Regions from separate parts of the Homo sapiens genome. Here all the other regions are linked to region 1. Evidence: fine-mapped expression QTL. A gene starts in region 1. Each other region holds a variant in brackets. All regions are shown on one strand. Distances are between the middles of the regions. Region 1 holds the start of HSD17B11 (hydroxysteroid 17-beta dehydrogenase 11). Region 2 overlaps HSD17B11 (hydroxysteroid 17-beta dehydrogenase 11). Region 3 overlaps AFF1 (ALF transcription elongation factor 1). Region 4 has its middle 2.4 kb from the start of MIR5705.

Region 1 (4,000 bases):
ACCATCATTCACAAGACCATTCACATCACTCACATTCTATTGGTGTTAATTATAATTTACATAAAGTTGAATAGTTGATAAAGCAATGTGCTTTCTATTAACTCGTTTGAACGTCACAAGAATCCTGTAGGGTAAGTATTATTTCAATTTTACAAATTTAGAAACATGTTTAGAGAGATGAAGTCACATACACATAAGGGATTCAGGTACGACTGCGTCCAAATGCTGTGTTCTTTCCCTTAACCAATGAAACCTTGATCAACTGTAGGTTAAAACTACCCAGTTTTTTTTAATTAATAGAATGGAATAAGAAATAGCATAGCCAGACCGTGTGCCATGGCTCACGCCTGTAATCCCAGCACTTGGGAAGACCAAGGTGGGTGGAACAGGAGATCGAGATTGAGACCATCCTAGCCAACATGGGGAAACCCTGTCTACTAAAAATACAAAAATTAGCTGGGTGTGGTGGTGCGTGCCTGTAGTCCCAGCTACTTGGGAGGCTGAGGCAGGAGAATCGCTTGAACCTGGGAGGTGGAGGTTGAGGTTGCTGTGAGCCAAGATTTCGCCACTGCACTCCAGCCTGGAGACAGAGGGAGACTCCTTTAAAAAAAAAAAAAATAGCATAGCTAGAGCCTCAATATATGAAACTCAACATAGTTGAAACACTTCTTATAGTAGATCACCATGTCAGATGTAATTTATTCCTGTAGGTGTTGGACCAAAAAATTGACAAACACTGAACATATGTGTAGCCCCAGTTACACTTTTACTCACTGTGTAGATTTTAAAGTTGATCTAACAGATTTATTCATTTACAGTATAGGTATAAATATATCCTGACTCTACTTTTCTCTATTTCCTAGGAGGCTTTTGAAAATCAAATGAAATAATATATGTGGAAGAACACTTTGTAAACTTTCTATACAAGTGTTTTGTAAATTTGGATTTGGAGGCTATCCAAAAAAAAGTTGTAGATATTCTGAATTCAAAGAATTCTATAATGGGGTTCACTTTTGTGAGGCTGCCACTATCCCTTCATCCCCTATAACAACGTATGGCTGCTTAAGTAAGAGGGACAATCGAGTTTGAACTATTTGTGAACTTTGATTTTTTTGTGTGATCTTTCTGGCTCTTAAATATGAAAGTTGACTATTGTCACACAACAAAGTCCCTTCCCAAGCACTGGAGTGTCTTGCGCAAAACCCAAATCCAATGTCTGTCAAAAATGAGTTGGAAAAAAATGCATGCAATACCATTATTAAGCTCTTACTGGACACAAGCCCTAGTTAGGTCTTTTCTTCCAGTAACCAATCTCTAGAATTTTTTCAAGTCACTAGTTAGCATATACTGAATACCCATTTATATAGGCTACAAAACCAAATGTTACATAGGTAATCTTTAGGCTAAATGATTTGCTATTTATTCACTTGAATAAAGATAAAATTCCTAAAGTACAACATATATTTTTTATTTTCAAACTCTAATAGGTCAAGTGAAAAATGATTATTCAAATATACTCTTCTTTCTTGTGGAAACAATCCCTTTAATACGATAACAATTTTTTCTGGCGCTTGATTGAAGCTGTCCTTGAACAGACAAAATTTCCCCTGTCTTCCAGAAATCGTGCTTAGTTCAAACTAAAATGTGATGTAGCGCAATTTCTCAGCTGGAAGCAGAACGATTGGTCTTTTCAGGATCCTTTAAGATAGGAATCTACATTTGCATCCTCTATCTAGTTTTTGTTTTTTAGGACAAAGTCTGGCCTTTTCGTCCAGGCTGGAGTGCAGTGGCGCGATCTTCACTCACTGTAGCCTCCACCTCCTGGACTCAAGCAATTCCCGTGCCTCAGTCTCTCGAGTAGCTGGAACTACAGGCACACGCCACTACGCCTGGCTAATTAAAAAAAAAAAAAAAGAGACCGGGGGTCTCCCTATGTTGTTCAGGCTGATCTCGAACTCCTGGGGTCAAGCGATCCTCCCGCCAGGGCTTCTCAAAGTGCCAGGATCACAGGCGAGAGCCGCCGCGCCCAGCGGCACCCCCTATCTAGTGATAAGCAACCTTCAACTATGAAAGAAGCATCTGGCCTGTGGACACTGTCGGTTATCCTTGGAACTTATCCAATTTAGGAAAACAAGTGAGCAACTAACCCTCCAAGGCCGGCTCACGACACCGGGAGAAAGTGGTGTAAAAGACAATCGCGGCCACACACCGCGTGGGGGCTGCGCAAAGCAGAACTAGGAAGCTTTGCTCCGGTCTGGACTTCGTCCCTCCCAGATCTCTGAGCTAGCAAGCACTGCAGCCCGAGCCAATTGCGAAAGACCAACAAAGCCCAGCCCAGCGGAAGGAACGGTTTCGGAGTTGTTTTTCTTTGATACGGGAGTTCCTCCTTGCTCTCGCCCCTACTCTTTCTGGTGTTAGATCGAGCTACCCTCTAAAAGCAGTTTAGAGTGGTAAAAAAAAAAAAAAACACACCAAACGCTCGCAGCCACAAAAGGGATGAAATTTCTTCTGGACATCCTCCTGCTTCTCCCGTTACTGATCGTCTGCTCCCTAGAGTCCTTCGTGAAGCTTTTTATTCCTAAGAGGAGAAAATCAGTCACCGGCGAAATCGTGCTGATTACAGGAGCTGGGCATGGAATTGGGAGACTGACTGCCTATGAATTTGCTAAACTTAAAAGCAAGCTGGTTCTCTGGGATATAAATAAGGTAACAGTGTTTACTATGTTTTACTTTCTGGTACCTTTAATTTGTGGATGTGTCTGCATTTTGCTGGCAACCACCCTTTACCTCATCTCTGCAAAGCAGGGAGGAAAAAAAAATTAGTATTGCCATTTTGCAGATGGGAGGGCATGAATTAATATGTTGTATGATCACATGATAAACAGACCTAGAGGTTATAATAGTCCCAGTTACTGCCCCATTTGTAAATTGATCCCCATTTTTGCCCTAAGGATAACTCATAATTTTTTCCTGAACCTGATTTCATTGATCCCTCTATTTTAAAAATAGGGAAAAAACAATCGTTTTAGCTATATATTAAAAGAGTAAGAAGCTTGTACCTATTAAGAGAAAGTCCTACTTACTGTTAATGAGAAAAGTGGTTTGAAAGATTATACTCGCCGTTGGCTCACGCCTGTAATCCCAGCACTTTGGGAGTCCAAGGCAGGCGGATCGCGAGGTCAGGAGATCGAGACCATCCTAACACACTGAAACCCCGTCTCTACTAAAAATACCAAAAAAAAATTAGCCGGGCGTGGTGGCGGGCGTCTGTAGTCCCAGCTATTGGGGAGGCTGAGGCAGGAGAATGGCGGGAACCCCGCGGGGCGGAGGTTGCAGTGAGCCAAGATGGCGCCACTGCACTTCAGCCTGGGCGACAGAGCTAGACTCCGTCTCAAAAAACAAACAAAAAGATTATACTCAACAGAAACCAATGCTACATTGCCATAGTTATTGCCAAGAGTAATTTTAAAAAGCATCTTTTCCGGGAGGCTGAGGTGGGGGGTTGCTTGAGCCTGGGAGGTGGAGACTGCAGTGAGCTGTAAACGCCCCACTGCACTCCAGCCTGGGTGACAGAGTGAGACCCTGTCTCAAATTTTTTTAAAAAACATTTTTTACCACGTTTGACCTGTGATACTGAAGGAGTGGCGGGAAAGCATCTTTTAGTAAAAACAATAAAAGGGAAAAAAACTTTCAGTGTAATTTTTTACCTAGGACAAGTGTAGGTGTGGCTTAGGGAGGAGAAGAGGACCTAGAATCCAACCTTTTATTTGACCTTTGGTAGATGAACAAAGGGGTTTCTAGAAGATACCTGATGGCCTGAAACATTATCCATTACACACTAGTTGACATGCAATGCTGTAAACAATAATTCAAAGGATGTGAAGTTAAATGAGGGTTAACCCAGTGAGTGGCTGATGAAGACAGCAATCAACAAATAATGACTGTCTGCTGCTTAGACATTAGGGATAGGGTGACAAACAGAAAATAAGGTTCCATGACC
Region 2 (4,267 bases), 26 kb after region 1:
TTGAAATATAATATTCTCTCTCCAGTTTCCCATTTTTATTAAAGACACATTATGGTAAGACTGATTTGCTTTATTATACTTGGTCTGATTATTTGTATAAAGTGCAGCGAGAATAATTATTTTTCACACAGGCTTTTTAATTGGCTTTGATGGAACTCTGTTTTATAAGGAATCTCAGGTAAGACTTTTTTAAAGCTAAGCCCTGCCATGGGTTTGTACCCTTAAATACCTATGAGTTGGGTAAAACACTTTTCTTTTGAGGTCCCAAGTTAACTTGGGCCTCCTGGACCTGTAAGAAAGTGACATTCTTTACTTACCATAGGTCAGAAACCCTGTACAGGGACTGTGTAGGCAAAGTATGAGGCCAGTTTCCCATAGGGCTTTTATTGGCTTTACAAGTCAAGTTTGATTCTTTAAAGGAAAGCACACCATTCCAGTCAAAGCCTTGGTAAAATAACCAATTTCTCCAATAGTGTCCCATTACAAAAGAAAACAGATTTTTGTTGCACTTATACAAACAACTATATTGCCATAAGTTAAGAATACTTACAATTGGTTTCCATTCCGGAGAAATCAGGTAGAGAGAAACAAATATGTTTCAAATTTTGTTCATAGGAGTATATTTTACTTAATTGCTGCAAGCTGTAAATAGCTTAAAAGAAGTTTCCTTTGAAAAATAAAAGATCAGCAATATTTTAAGCAAAGTTAAAAAAAATTACTTCAGTTTTCTATTGGTTCAGTTAATTCAGTTAACTCCTGTTCTACTTGTTATTCATGAACATTCCAGCTTTTTATGAGAGTTTCGAAAGTTGTTTTCTTTATTTTAATGTTACAATTTCTAAAGTTATTAGCAACCTGCATTTAAGAACATCTGCTAGAATTCTATAGTTGATTATAAACCACCTTTTAAAGAAGATTAAAACAAGACAACAACTGTCTGTGGATGATAAAAACTTTAGGACAGCCACTATTAAAGCCACAATTGATAAGGAAATTTGGTTACTTTTGTGGCATACAAAATTTTACATAACAATTATAATTATTAGTAACATACACTAAGTCATATTAGAAATAAAGGAGTTTCTTATAACTTTGGAACATATACCAATAACATATTTATACAAATATAGTCCAAAGAAAGCAAAACACTGTTTCACATTTGAGAATGCTTCCTGGATGATTTTTATACCAAATAAGCGAAATTTCACCTTTACATTAATGTATTATTAATGTTAAACCCAATTTTTAATAAAACCTTAGAGACATATTTACCCAATTTTAATGTTTAATCCTAAGGTAAGATTTTATAAACCTTTATAACCCTTTACATTTTTTTGTGAAAGCGCAGATAAGTCCTCTAAGAGAAACCTGTTGTGCTTTTATTCCAATGTTTAATTTATGGAAAAACTGAATAATACCCCTTTAACTTTAGCTAATATGTTCATACACAGAATCTCTTACAATTAATTTTTATAAACCTTCCACAAAGGCCAGGTGCAGTGGCTCACACCTGTATATCCCAACACTTTGGGAGGCCAAGATGGGTGGATCACCTGAGGTCGGAAGTTCAAGACCAGCCTGATCAACATGGAGAAACCCTGTCTCTACTAAAAATACAAAATTAGCCAGGCATGGTGGCACATGCCTGTAATCCCAGCTACCTGGGAGGCTGAGACAGAAGAATTGCTTGAACCCGGGAAGCAGAGGTTGCGGTGAGTCAAGATCACGCCATTGCACTCCAGCCTGGGCAACAAGAACAAAACTCCATCTAAAAAAAACCTTCCACAACTTCTTTAAATCTTTTTTTTTTTTTCACTTAACACAATCCTTTAACACTTTAATCTAGGCAGAAAATAATCCGCATTCCCATGCTTCTTCTTACAATTTTTTTTTTAACCAAAAACACATTTCACCTTTTTTATACACCTTGCATGTAAAACTGTTTCTTCAGTAGTCTTAATTACACATTACAATGCTAACTTCTAGCAACTTTTATTTTTGATGAAAACGTTGGTTAAGTAAGGGATTTTAATTATGTACTAGGTGTGGAGACTAGTCTAGGACACACCAGGCAGAAGTGCAGATAAGGGCTGACTCTCCAGCATAGCCAGGGGCATGAGGCCTTATCTAGAATCTGATGGCTTTAAAGTAGGTAAATAGAACAGTTTTCAAAAGTTAAAGAAACAGTTTGTCCTTAAAGCATTTAGCAAATCTGATATCTGACCTTAATTTAGACCAAATGTCTACATTTTTAAGACATTTTATTTTACCAATAAACTTTAAAACTGTCTTTATTTTCAAAAGATTACTAAAGTCACACGAACAAAAAGGCATTAGTTTCTATTTTTCTGAAAAAATATTTACGCACTTACTTTTCTAAGTCAATTGATTAGAGCTTTGTAATATATAAACATACACTATAAATAGAAGATTCAGCACTTATACAGTTTTTCGTTTGCCAGTTTCTTTTTTTTTGAGACAAAGTTT[C/T]GCTCTTGTCACCCAGGCTGGAGTGCAGTGGCATGATCTTGGCTCACTGCAACCTCTGCCTCCCAGGTTCAAGTGATTCTCATGCCTCAGCCTCCCGCGTAGCTGGGATTACAGGCGCCCACCACCACACCCAGCTAATTTTTGTATTTTTACTAGAGACGGGTTTTCCCCATGTTGGCCAGGCTGGTCTTGAACTCCTGACCTCAAGTGATCCGCCCACCTCAGCCTCCCAAAGTGCTGGGATTACAGGCATGAGCCACCTCGCCCCACCATTTGCCAGTTTCTTAATTGGATGACAGGTTTCAGAGTGGAGCCCTTGGAGGAACAGAGCTGGGACAGCATGCATTTCTAGGGCTAAATAAGTAGCAAATAAGCAGCTGAAGGCAGACAGATCTCCAAAATTAAAGGTGGTATTTTATACTGGATCCTGGATCCCCAAAAGGAGGGAAATACTACGGGAGAAGACAATGCAGTGCTTTTACCGACTGTGCATTTCATTGCAAGGCAACCTAAAGCCAATCAGCCCATTTTGTAATCAGCCCATCCTCATGAGAGTCTCATCTCCCAGTGAGGGGTGAGGATGTTGCCTTATCTTCCAGGTGGCCTAGAGCATGCTTCTCTGATCCAAGTGTGCAGAGTCAAGTATCCCTCCATAACTACTATTAGCCACCCCTTAAAGTACATTTCCTACCTAGTTGTTACACACCAAAGCTCTCTCATAATGCAAAGTAATTGCTGATAACCCCCCTCCCCCAAACTCAAAACCGTCAGATAACACAATGCAAAACAGAACAGAGCCTTTGATTTTGAGAGGAATCTATCTGCTTTTAATTCTTGGGGTCTCATGAGGAAAACAGAGGGGTTTTTTTTCTTTTTTTTTTTTTTTTCCCAAAACTGGATCTGTGGTGCTGCCTTTGTTTTTCCCAAGTAGTCCCAAGCTACCAGAAGTTATCTACGGGCCTTTCATGTGAGCATTAATAGTAACAAGACAAAACAAAACAAAACAAAACAAAAAAACAAAAATAATTCACTTGACTGAGAAGAAAAAACCTTTTTCCAGCAAAACAAGCTTCAAGAAGAGAAAAACATAAAGGCCTTTTAAATATATTTATAGCTTATTCCACTTTTAATTAAGCTGACTTTTCACCATAGTGCTCTTTAAAGAAGAAATCCTTTCAGAGCTCTTATTACCCGACTTTAGCCATGCCAAGCGGCCAATATTTCCAGCTTCTGAACTTTACCAAAGGTAAACTCCTAGGTGCTTAGAAGAAGGAAAATTGAAGACAGTCCATGGAGGAGAAGAGAATAGACACATATATTAAATCAGTAATGACTTATTTCCTGGGTGGGGAATTGAACCTAGACTGCCACTGTGAAAGTGCAAAACCTTAGCTACTGAGCTACAGGTCTGGGCAGTGTCTATTTCTTTTCTCAGAAGTAGTCTAGATTAGTTAATTTTGAGCTTGCAAAGGCTTTTAACTATTTAATATGATTTTCAGAGCTGGCTATGACATGAACTTTAAAATTCTTGTTCCCTGGAAGACAGAGCCCAAGAGAAGGTACTGCCATGCGGTTAAAAGGTCAAGCTCCCAAGCACATAAAACAAGGTGGAGACTTCATCGGGTTTTTTGTTTGTTTCAGGGACCTGCAACCAAGTTTGTTACTGACCAGCTTGCTGGGTAGTCTTGAAAAGCGGGCTTACAGGTGTTCTAAGCCCATGTTTTATCCTGAAGTACCCCTCTACACGGAAAAACGAATTCATAGCACAAAATACACCAGC
Region 3 (4,000 bases), 400 kb after region 1:
TCATTCATGAGGGCAGATCCTTCACGATCCAATCACCTCTTAAAGGCTCCACCTTTTAATACTGCCACATCGGGTTTAAGTTTCAACATAAATATTTGTGGGTTTTTTTGTTTGTTTGTTTGTTTTAATTGATCATTCTTGGGTGTTTCTCACAGAGGGGGATTTGGCAGGGTCACAGGACAATAGTGGAGGGAAGGTCAGCAGATAAACAAGTGAACAAAGGTCTCTGGTTTTCCTAGGCAGAGGACCCTGCGGCCTTCCGCAGTGTTTGTGTCCCTGGGTACTTGAGATTAGGGAGTGGTGATGACTCTTAACGAGCATGCTGCCTTCAAGCATCTGTTTAACAAAGCACATCTTGCACCGCCCTTAATCCATTCAACCCTGAGTGGATACAGCACATGTTTCAGAGAGCACAGGGTTGGGGGTAAGGTCACAGATCAACAGGATCCCAAGGCAGAAGAATTTTTCTTAGTACAGAACAAAATGAAAAGTCTCCCATGTCTACCTCTTTCTACACAGACACAGCAACCATCCGATTTCTCAATCTTTTCCCCACCTTTCCCCCCTTTCTATTCCACAAAACCGCCATTGTCATCATGGCCCGTTCTCAATGAGCTGTTGGGTACACCTCCCAGACGGGGTGGTGGCCAGGCAGAGGGGCTCCTCACTTCCCAGTAGGGGCGGCCGGGCAGAGGTGCCCCTCACCTCCCGGACAGGGCGGCTGGCCGGGCGGGGGCCTGACCCCCCCACCTCCCTCCCAGACGAGGTGGCTGCCGGGCAGAGACGCTCCTCACTTCCCAGACGGGGTGGCTGCTGGGCGGAGGGGCTCCTCACTTCTCAGACGGGGCGGCTGCCGGGCGGAGGGGCTCCTCACTTCTCAGACGGGGCGGCCGGGCAGAGACGCTCCTCACATCCCGGACGGGGCGGCAGGGCAGAGGTGCTCCCCACATCTCAGACGATGGGCGGCCGGGCAGAGACGCTCCTCACTTCCCAGATGGGATGGCGGCCAGGCAGAGACGCTCCTCACTTTCCAGACTGGGCAGCCAGGCAGAAGGGCTCCTCACATCCCAGACGATGGGCGGCCTGGCAGAGACGCTCCTCACTTCCCAGACGGGGTGGCGGCCGGGCAGAGGCTGCAATCTCGGCACTTTGGGAGGCCAAGGCAGGCTGCTGGGAGGTGGAGGTTGTAGCGAGCCGAGATCACACCACTGCACTCCAGCCTGGGCACCATTGAGCACTGAGTGAAGGAGACTCCGTCTGCAATCCCGGCACCTCGGGAGGCCGAGGCTGGCGGATCACTCGAGGTTAGGAGCTGGAGACCAGCCCGGCCAACACAGCGAAACCCCGTCTCCACCAAAAAAATACGAAAACCAGTCAGGCGTGGCGGCGCGCGCCTGCAATCGCAGGCACTCGGCAGGCTGAGGCAGGAGAATCAGGCAGGGAGGTTGCAGTGAGCCGAGATGGCAGCAGTACCGTCCAGCTTCGGCTCGGCATCAGAGGGAGACCGTGGAAAGAGAGGGAGAGGGAGACCGTGGGGAGAGGGGGAGGGAGGGAGAGGGGGAGGGAGAGGGGGAGGGGGAAG[G/A]GGGTAGATTTTTCTAACTGCCTGTTTGTTTTTTGAGAAAAGGTCTCATTCTGTTGCCCAGGCTGAAGTGCAGTGCTGCAATTTCAGTTGACTGCAGCCTCGGTCTCCAGGGCTCAAGCAATCCTCCTACCTCAGCCTCCTGAGTAGCTGGGGCTACAGGCACACAACACCACACCTGGCTAATTTTTTGTAAAGACTAGGTTTTACCATGTTGCCTAGGCTGATCTCAAACTCCTGGACTCAGGTGATCCACCTGCCTTGGCCTCCCGAAGTGCTGAGATTACAAAGTGTGAGCCACCATGCCTGGCCTGGAGACAGTTTCTTACAGGATATCTAACACCCTTCCCAATTTGGACCAACTTCAGTAGCCTTATCATCCACCAAACCTCTCTCTGTCCCCTCCCCGCTTTCCCATGAACACCCTCCAGCCCCACAGTTCTCTAATGCCACCAACCTTTGCAGACAGTATTTTCTCTTCATTAGAATGCCCCTTTCCCTCTGCTCCAGCTGAAGACCCCTTACCATTATCTAAACTCTAACAAATGCAGCTCTTCTCAGAAGCCTTCTCTGATAGCTTATCCTTCACTCTACCTAACACAAGCTCCTAGTTCTCATGCATATCAAGTCATGATGCTGGATGGATCAAGGGGAGTGTTTGCTTGTTTGAGCAGAAAGGCAGCCAAAACCAATGCAGCCAAAAGATAATTTCTGAAGCAGAGAACTGTGAAGAACTCTGCTACAGTTGCAGCTGCTAAGATTTCCTTTTACACATGTGTTTGCAGGTGAGATCTGCCCCCAGATTGCATAATCTGGGGTTCTCTCATTACACAATCAGTGGACTCTGATCCAGATCCACAAATGGAGCAAGTGAGGATCAATGAACAATTTCCAACATTTCAAAAAATCCAAAGGAAACCACATATTTGACCATGAGAAGTGTGTGAAGGACTCCGCTCTGGGCCTTCCTGGAGCTTATGCCAACTCAGTGTGCCAGCACCAGTGAGCCCACAGTGATCAGGAAGTCGAATTAGCAACTTCGTGTGTTTTGATTAATTCAAGTAAGAAAACAAATGTTTGTTTAAATATAGTTTATTTAGTAGGGGGACTCTTTTTTAGTGCCTTCTGGCAATTTAGTGTGCAGTTGAGTTAGAACCTGTGTTTTAGTGCCTTGTTACTTAAAGTAAGGCTGCAGAGCAGCAGCTCTAACATGAGAGGCCTATAAGAAATGCAGTTTTAGGTCCCATCCCAGATTTCCTGAATCAGAATCTGCATTTTTATATTTTTAATGTATTATTATTTTTTAAGACGGAGTCTCGCTCTGTCTCCCAGGCTGGAGTGAAATGGCACGATCTCAGCTCACTGCAAACCTCCACCTCCTGGGTTCACATGATTCTCCTGCCTTAGCCTCCCGAGTAGCTGGAATTACAGGCACACATTACCATGCCCAGCTAATTTTTTGTATTTTTAGTAGAGATGGGGTTTCACTATGTTGGCCAGGCTGGTCTCGAACTCCTGACCTCATAATCCACCCACCTCAGCCTCCCAAAATGCTGGGATTACAGGCATGAGCCACCATGCCCAGCCCAGAATCTGCATTTTAACAAAATTCAAAGGTGATTCATATACTCATTGAACTCTGAGAAGCACAGTACTATAAAATCTATGACATTTAGGAGTTCCATAAACTCTCAAAGACAAGTGTCCACAATTACTACCATTATTCAGTTTGAAACAGTCTCTGAACAGTATTGTGGCATAGTCATCTATGAGTTATGGGCTTTTCCTGCCCTTGAAACTATCCCTAAATTTTCCTGAACACATATCAGGAAAGGGGAAGGATTTAAGAACTGGAAGATAGGAGATATTCCTCAATCTCTGCAGGGATGTTTTCCTCATTTGTGGGAGAAAAAAACTACATATATAGGCAAGCCACAATGATCAGTAAATTGCAGCTTATTAGTTATACTAAGATCTGGTCTCCTCACACATAAAAGAGGTTACATCAACTACTGGCACTTTCTGTGATACCTAGCCTGTCGTAAATGTGCTGTTTTTATTCCTAGCAAATGTTTGAATCCAAGCAAAACCTAATTGGAGGTATGGATTTTACCTTCCATCTGAGGACTGAGGCTGCCTTCCAAAAAGTTAGGGGAGTTTTATTTGAGGCTTCTTGGCTGTGGACTCTGTTTCCTACCTAGGTCACATGTAAAACAGGAAGATTAAAACTAAATCAAATCAACATTTATTGAGCATTTATTACGTCTAAAGCTCATGCAACCCTATAGGAAAGCATGTTTTTTAAAAAATCTTTGTCTTCTAAGAACTTACTCACTCAAAGAAAGGGCTACTCCATTTTCTAAATCCTACATGTCTTGAAATTACAATTAATCTAGAGAACAAAAAGCTGATTAATAACCA
Region 4 (4,267 bases), 93 kb after region 1:
ACTAACTTTGAATTTAGTGCAGCATTATGTGAACTGGGCTGTTCTGTACATGTGATAATTACAACGAATTTAACAGTTACCCTTGTGTTTATGTCTTCACAAATTACGTGAGAAACCGTAAGGGGGAAATGCCAATCCCTGTCCTAAGAGTGCTCTCACGCTTTCTACTATTTGCTTCCTCTTGTGTCTAAAAGTTTTCAGACAGCTCATGACCTTTTCTATTCAGCTCTTCAAATCTGCCAAGTGTTTTGCTGAAACCCCTTCTTTATCTGATTGGATGTATTACATCTGATCAAATTTGCCTGTCAGCTGCTTGCAGCAAGGGTGGAATTACAGGAAAGTTAAGTGGGAACTTACTTGTATTTAATGGGAATCTTTTATAGTAAAAGTAATCACAGTGAAATCAAAGCAAGTACATTCTGACTTGCCTAGGGTGCAATCATGTCTCATTCAAACTAACTTCACAAACCCAGTGAGCAGCTAGAGAATATTCATAAATTCACATCAAAACACTTATGAAAAGTGAAGTCATTTACCAATTGCACTCCAGTAATGATCCATTATCTCAATAGAGATCTTCTTACTTTTAAATGTGAGGCTAACTTGTATAAATTAAGACTTAAATATTCCCAAACAACACTGAAAACCAAATTGCCTGTTCCCATACCTAATTCCAATAACTAGGATTTTTCACTTTTTTTTTTTTCTTTTTGAGACAGAGTCTCACTTTGTCACCCAGGCTGGAGTGCAGTGGTGTGATCTTGGCTCACTGCAGCCTCCATTTCCCGGGTTCAAGGGATTCTCCAGCCTCAGCCTCCTGAGTACCTGGGTTTATAGGCATGCACCACTACATCCAGCTAATTTTTGTACTTTTAGTAGAGACAGGGTTTCACTATGTTGGCCAGACTGGTCTCGAACTCCTGGCCTCCAGTGATCAGCCCGCCTCGGCCTCCCAAAGTGCTGAGATTATGGGCGTGAGTCACTGCACCCAGCCCTGGATTTTTTGACTTTCTGTTTCTCAACACCTCTTTCCTTCTGATGGCTCTTTACTAATTAGTTCAGACTTCGTTCAATTAATTTGATGCATTTAGTTCTCTACTTCTCTTCCATTGTTCTCTTTCTCTTTTCAGCCTTCTCTTTCTAAGCTTCTCCCCACATTCTAATCTAGTCTGGAAACATAGCCTATTTTTCAGTCATCAAAACTATCCTGTATTACCTATGTAGCAGGAAAAAAAAAAAGACCACTTGATGTTGAATTCAATTTGGAATGATGTGATTTAAATATTTCAAACAATATTGCAGTTCCAGTGTACCTTGTTATCTAACAATATTGCACATTTGAGAGTATTATTTTCTATGCTGGTGAATTTAATGTAGAAATATTCAAGATAAACTACAACAACTCATAGACTTTTTCAAGCCAAAACAAGGCTTTTTCTACAATTCATTCAAGAAAAGATATTCACTCGGCAACTTTGATAGGAAATACATGATGCTAGAATGTAGAAAAATCAGAGAGGAAGATGTGATCCTTGCTTTAAAGATGTTTACAACAGATCAGCTAATCCAGCCTGTTTGTAAATAACAACTCACTCAAAGAAAAATAGGGTTAGTCCCTTTGAAAAGTTACTAACCAAGTGCTTTGTGAATAGACAGCATGATTAATTTGGGTGACAGGGCAAATCTTTGCTGAGGAGATGCAATTAAAGATATTAAAGAGGAGGAGGTGCAAGAATATGCCACAGGGAACAAACATGCATGTTGGTACAAAATGTTTTACAAGTTGTGCGTTTGTAGCATGGTAAGTCATCCAGGGTCAACATGGATCATGCACCTGGGAATCTGGGGGAATAACAGCTTGGAAAAGATGTTTGGGGCCCAACAGTACAGAGTTTCAAAAAACATGTTGACAGATTTGGATTTTATTGAGGCAAGCCATGCAAGAGTAGAGTACATAAAACCAACGAGATCAGATCTGTGGTTGAGAAAGACAAAACTAGCACTGAAGTGGAGGATAGAGCACAGAAGAAAATAGTAAGTTATAAAATAACCAAT[T/A]TATAAATAAAGATAAATATATGTATGCTATTAAATTTCACAATACAGGCATATATACAGTCACAATATAAAACCATGCAAAATTTCAAATTGCTATAAGTACATTTATCTGAGCCATGTATTTAATAGTTATGTATAGATTATCTATTATTGACCATGGAAAAAGTGAAGTTAACATATTATAGCTGGTATTTATTGATTACTTTCTACCCACCTTTATTTCAGAAAGGATTTCCAGTGCTTACAAGAGTATCTAAAATTATAAAGTGCACAAGTCTTGAGGCAATAAGAGAGTACAGCATAGTGATGAGTTCTCAGATTTTGAACTAAATATAAGGGGGGCAAGATACAATATTAAAATAACCATTGCATGTAAACAGAATTACCATATGATCCAGCAATTTCACTTCCGGGTATATACCCAAAGGAATTGAAAAGAAAACTCAAATAGATATTGGTACACCCACATTCATAGCAGCATTATTCACAGTAGCCAAAAAGTGGAAGTAACCCAAATATCCATCAATGGATGAATGGATAAACAAAATGTGGCATATACATACAGTAGAATACTATCCAGCTTTAAACAAGAGGAAAATTCTGACACCATGCTACAACATGGATGAACCTTGAGGACTTTATGCTAAGTGAAATGAGCTAGTCACAAAAGTACAAAGTATAAATAGTGTATGATCCCACTCATACGAGGTATCTAGAGTGATCAAATACACAGAGACAGAAAGTAGAATGGTAGTTTCAGGGGCTGAGGGGAATGGAGAATGGGGAGTTATTATTTAATGGGTACAGAGTGTCAGTTTAGGAAGTTGAAAAAGTTGTAGAGATGGATGGTGGTGATGGCTGCAAAATATGAATGTAGTTGATACTACTGAACTTTACACTTAAAAATAGTTAAAATGGTAAACTTTATATTATGTATATTTCACCATAATTTTTTTTTTCAAGACGCAATCCTTTTCTGTCACCCAAGCTGGATTTCAGTGGCACGATCTTGGCTCACTGCAACTTCTATCTCAGGGATTCAATGATTCTCTTGCCTCAGCCTCCCGAGTACCTGGGATTACAGGTGCCTGCCACCATGCCTGGCTAATTTTTTTTGTATTTTTAGTAGAGACAGGGTTTCACCATGTTGGCCAGGCTGGTCTCAAGGTCTCAAACTCCTGACATCAGGGGATCTGCCCATCTTGGCCTCCCAAAGTGCTGGGATTGCAGGCATAGTCACCATGCCTGGCCCATAATTTTTAAACGTTTAAATTTTATTTATTTATTTATTTATTTTAGATAGGGCCTTGCTCTTTTGCCAGGCTGGAGTGCAGTGGCTACATCACAGCTCACAGCAACCTCGACCTCCTAGGCTCAAGCAGTCCTTGCACCTCAGCCTCTTGAGTAGCTGGGACCACAGGTGCACACCACCAAGACCAGCTAATTTTTTGTATTTTTTTTGTAGAGATGAGATCTTGTCATGTTGCCCAGGCTGGTCTCTAACTCCTGGGCTCAAGCCGTCCTCCCATTGACCGTCCAAAGTGCTGGGATTACAGGCCTGAGCCACCAGGCCCTGCCAATGTTTAAATTTTTAAAAAGAACCATACCACCTAAGTTATTCTTAATCTTAATGGCTACATATAATTGTATTATATTCATCTATTGCATTATTTATGATTACATAATTGGTTTGTTTCTATCAACCTTTACTAAGCCCCTTGTACATCTCCAGAGCGATGCTAGGCGGAAACTGGTGATATAAAAAGAATCTTTAAAGGTCCAATGAGAATAGAAATTATATGCTCCATTAATCAATATGATATAAAAGGGATTTAATCCTTTCAAACATTGGCAAACACATATAGAGGGCTTATTATTCTCTGATACACTTTCCTACAAACCTTACATCCATTTACTCATTTAATCATCACAAAAAATCCTGTGAGGTAGGGATTTCAACTGGCTACAATTTAAAGATAAGCAACTGTAAAGTGTCAATACCTTGTCATCCAAGGCCACACAGCCAAGGAATAAATGGTGGAGTTGTCAGTTCAGCTACAGTATCCATGGTCTTAATCATCAGCTAGAAGGCCTCTCATGTGAGGAGGTTGTATTTTTCAGTTCCTCCCAGTTTTTCTCTGACTTCTTTGGCTGATTTTCTCGGTCTCTTTTTTAGAGCTCTCTTGCTTCTCCTGCTCCTTGGATATTGCTG

What was found. PIP is the estimated chance that this variant, and not a neighbour inherited with it, causes the effect.
Region 2: its variant is fine-mapped to the expression of HSD17B11 in whole blood (TOPMed, PIP above 0.99).
Region 3: its variant is fine-mapped to the expression of HSD17B11 in whole blood (TOPMed, PIP 0.97).
Region 4: its variant is fine-mapped to the expression of HSD17B11 in whole blood (TOPMed, PIP above 0.99). The same link has a PIP of 0.9 or more in breast, caudate, esophagus muscle, gastroesophageal junction, hippocampus and ovary.

What each region holds. Positions count from the first base shown.
Region 1 is chr4:87,389,567-87,393,566 of GRCh38, reverse strand. It overlaps HSD17B11 (hydroxysteroid 17-beta dehydrogenase 11), which reads left to right and starts at 2,379. Exons shown (of 7, transcript NM_016245.5): 1 at 2,379-2,706. The coding sequence starts at 2,497. RefSeq lists enhancers at 1,512-2,084, 2,098-2,167.
Region 2 is chr4:87,363,378-87,367,644 of GRCh38, reverse strand. The region is part of intron 4 of HSD17B11 (hydroxysteroid 17-beta dehydrogenase 11); the gene reads left to right. Among named protein-coding and RNA genes, the nearest start is that of HSD17B11, 26 kb to the left of the region's middle. The variant C/T (reference allele first, on the strand shown) is at 2,488.
Region 3 is chr4:86,992,849-86,996,848 of GRCh38, reverse strand. The region is part of intron 2 of AFF1 (ALF transcription elongation factor 1); the gene reads right to left. Among named protein-coding and RNA genes, the nearest start is that of AFF1, 60 kb to the right of the region's middle. The variant G/A (reference allele first, on the strand shown) is at 1,583.
Region 4 is chr4:87,296,074-87,300,340 of GRCh38, reverse strand. No RefSeq gene overlaps it. Among named protein-coding and RNA genes, the nearest start is that of MIR5705, 2.4 kb to the left of the region's middle. The variant T/A (reference allele first, on the strand shown) is at 2,056.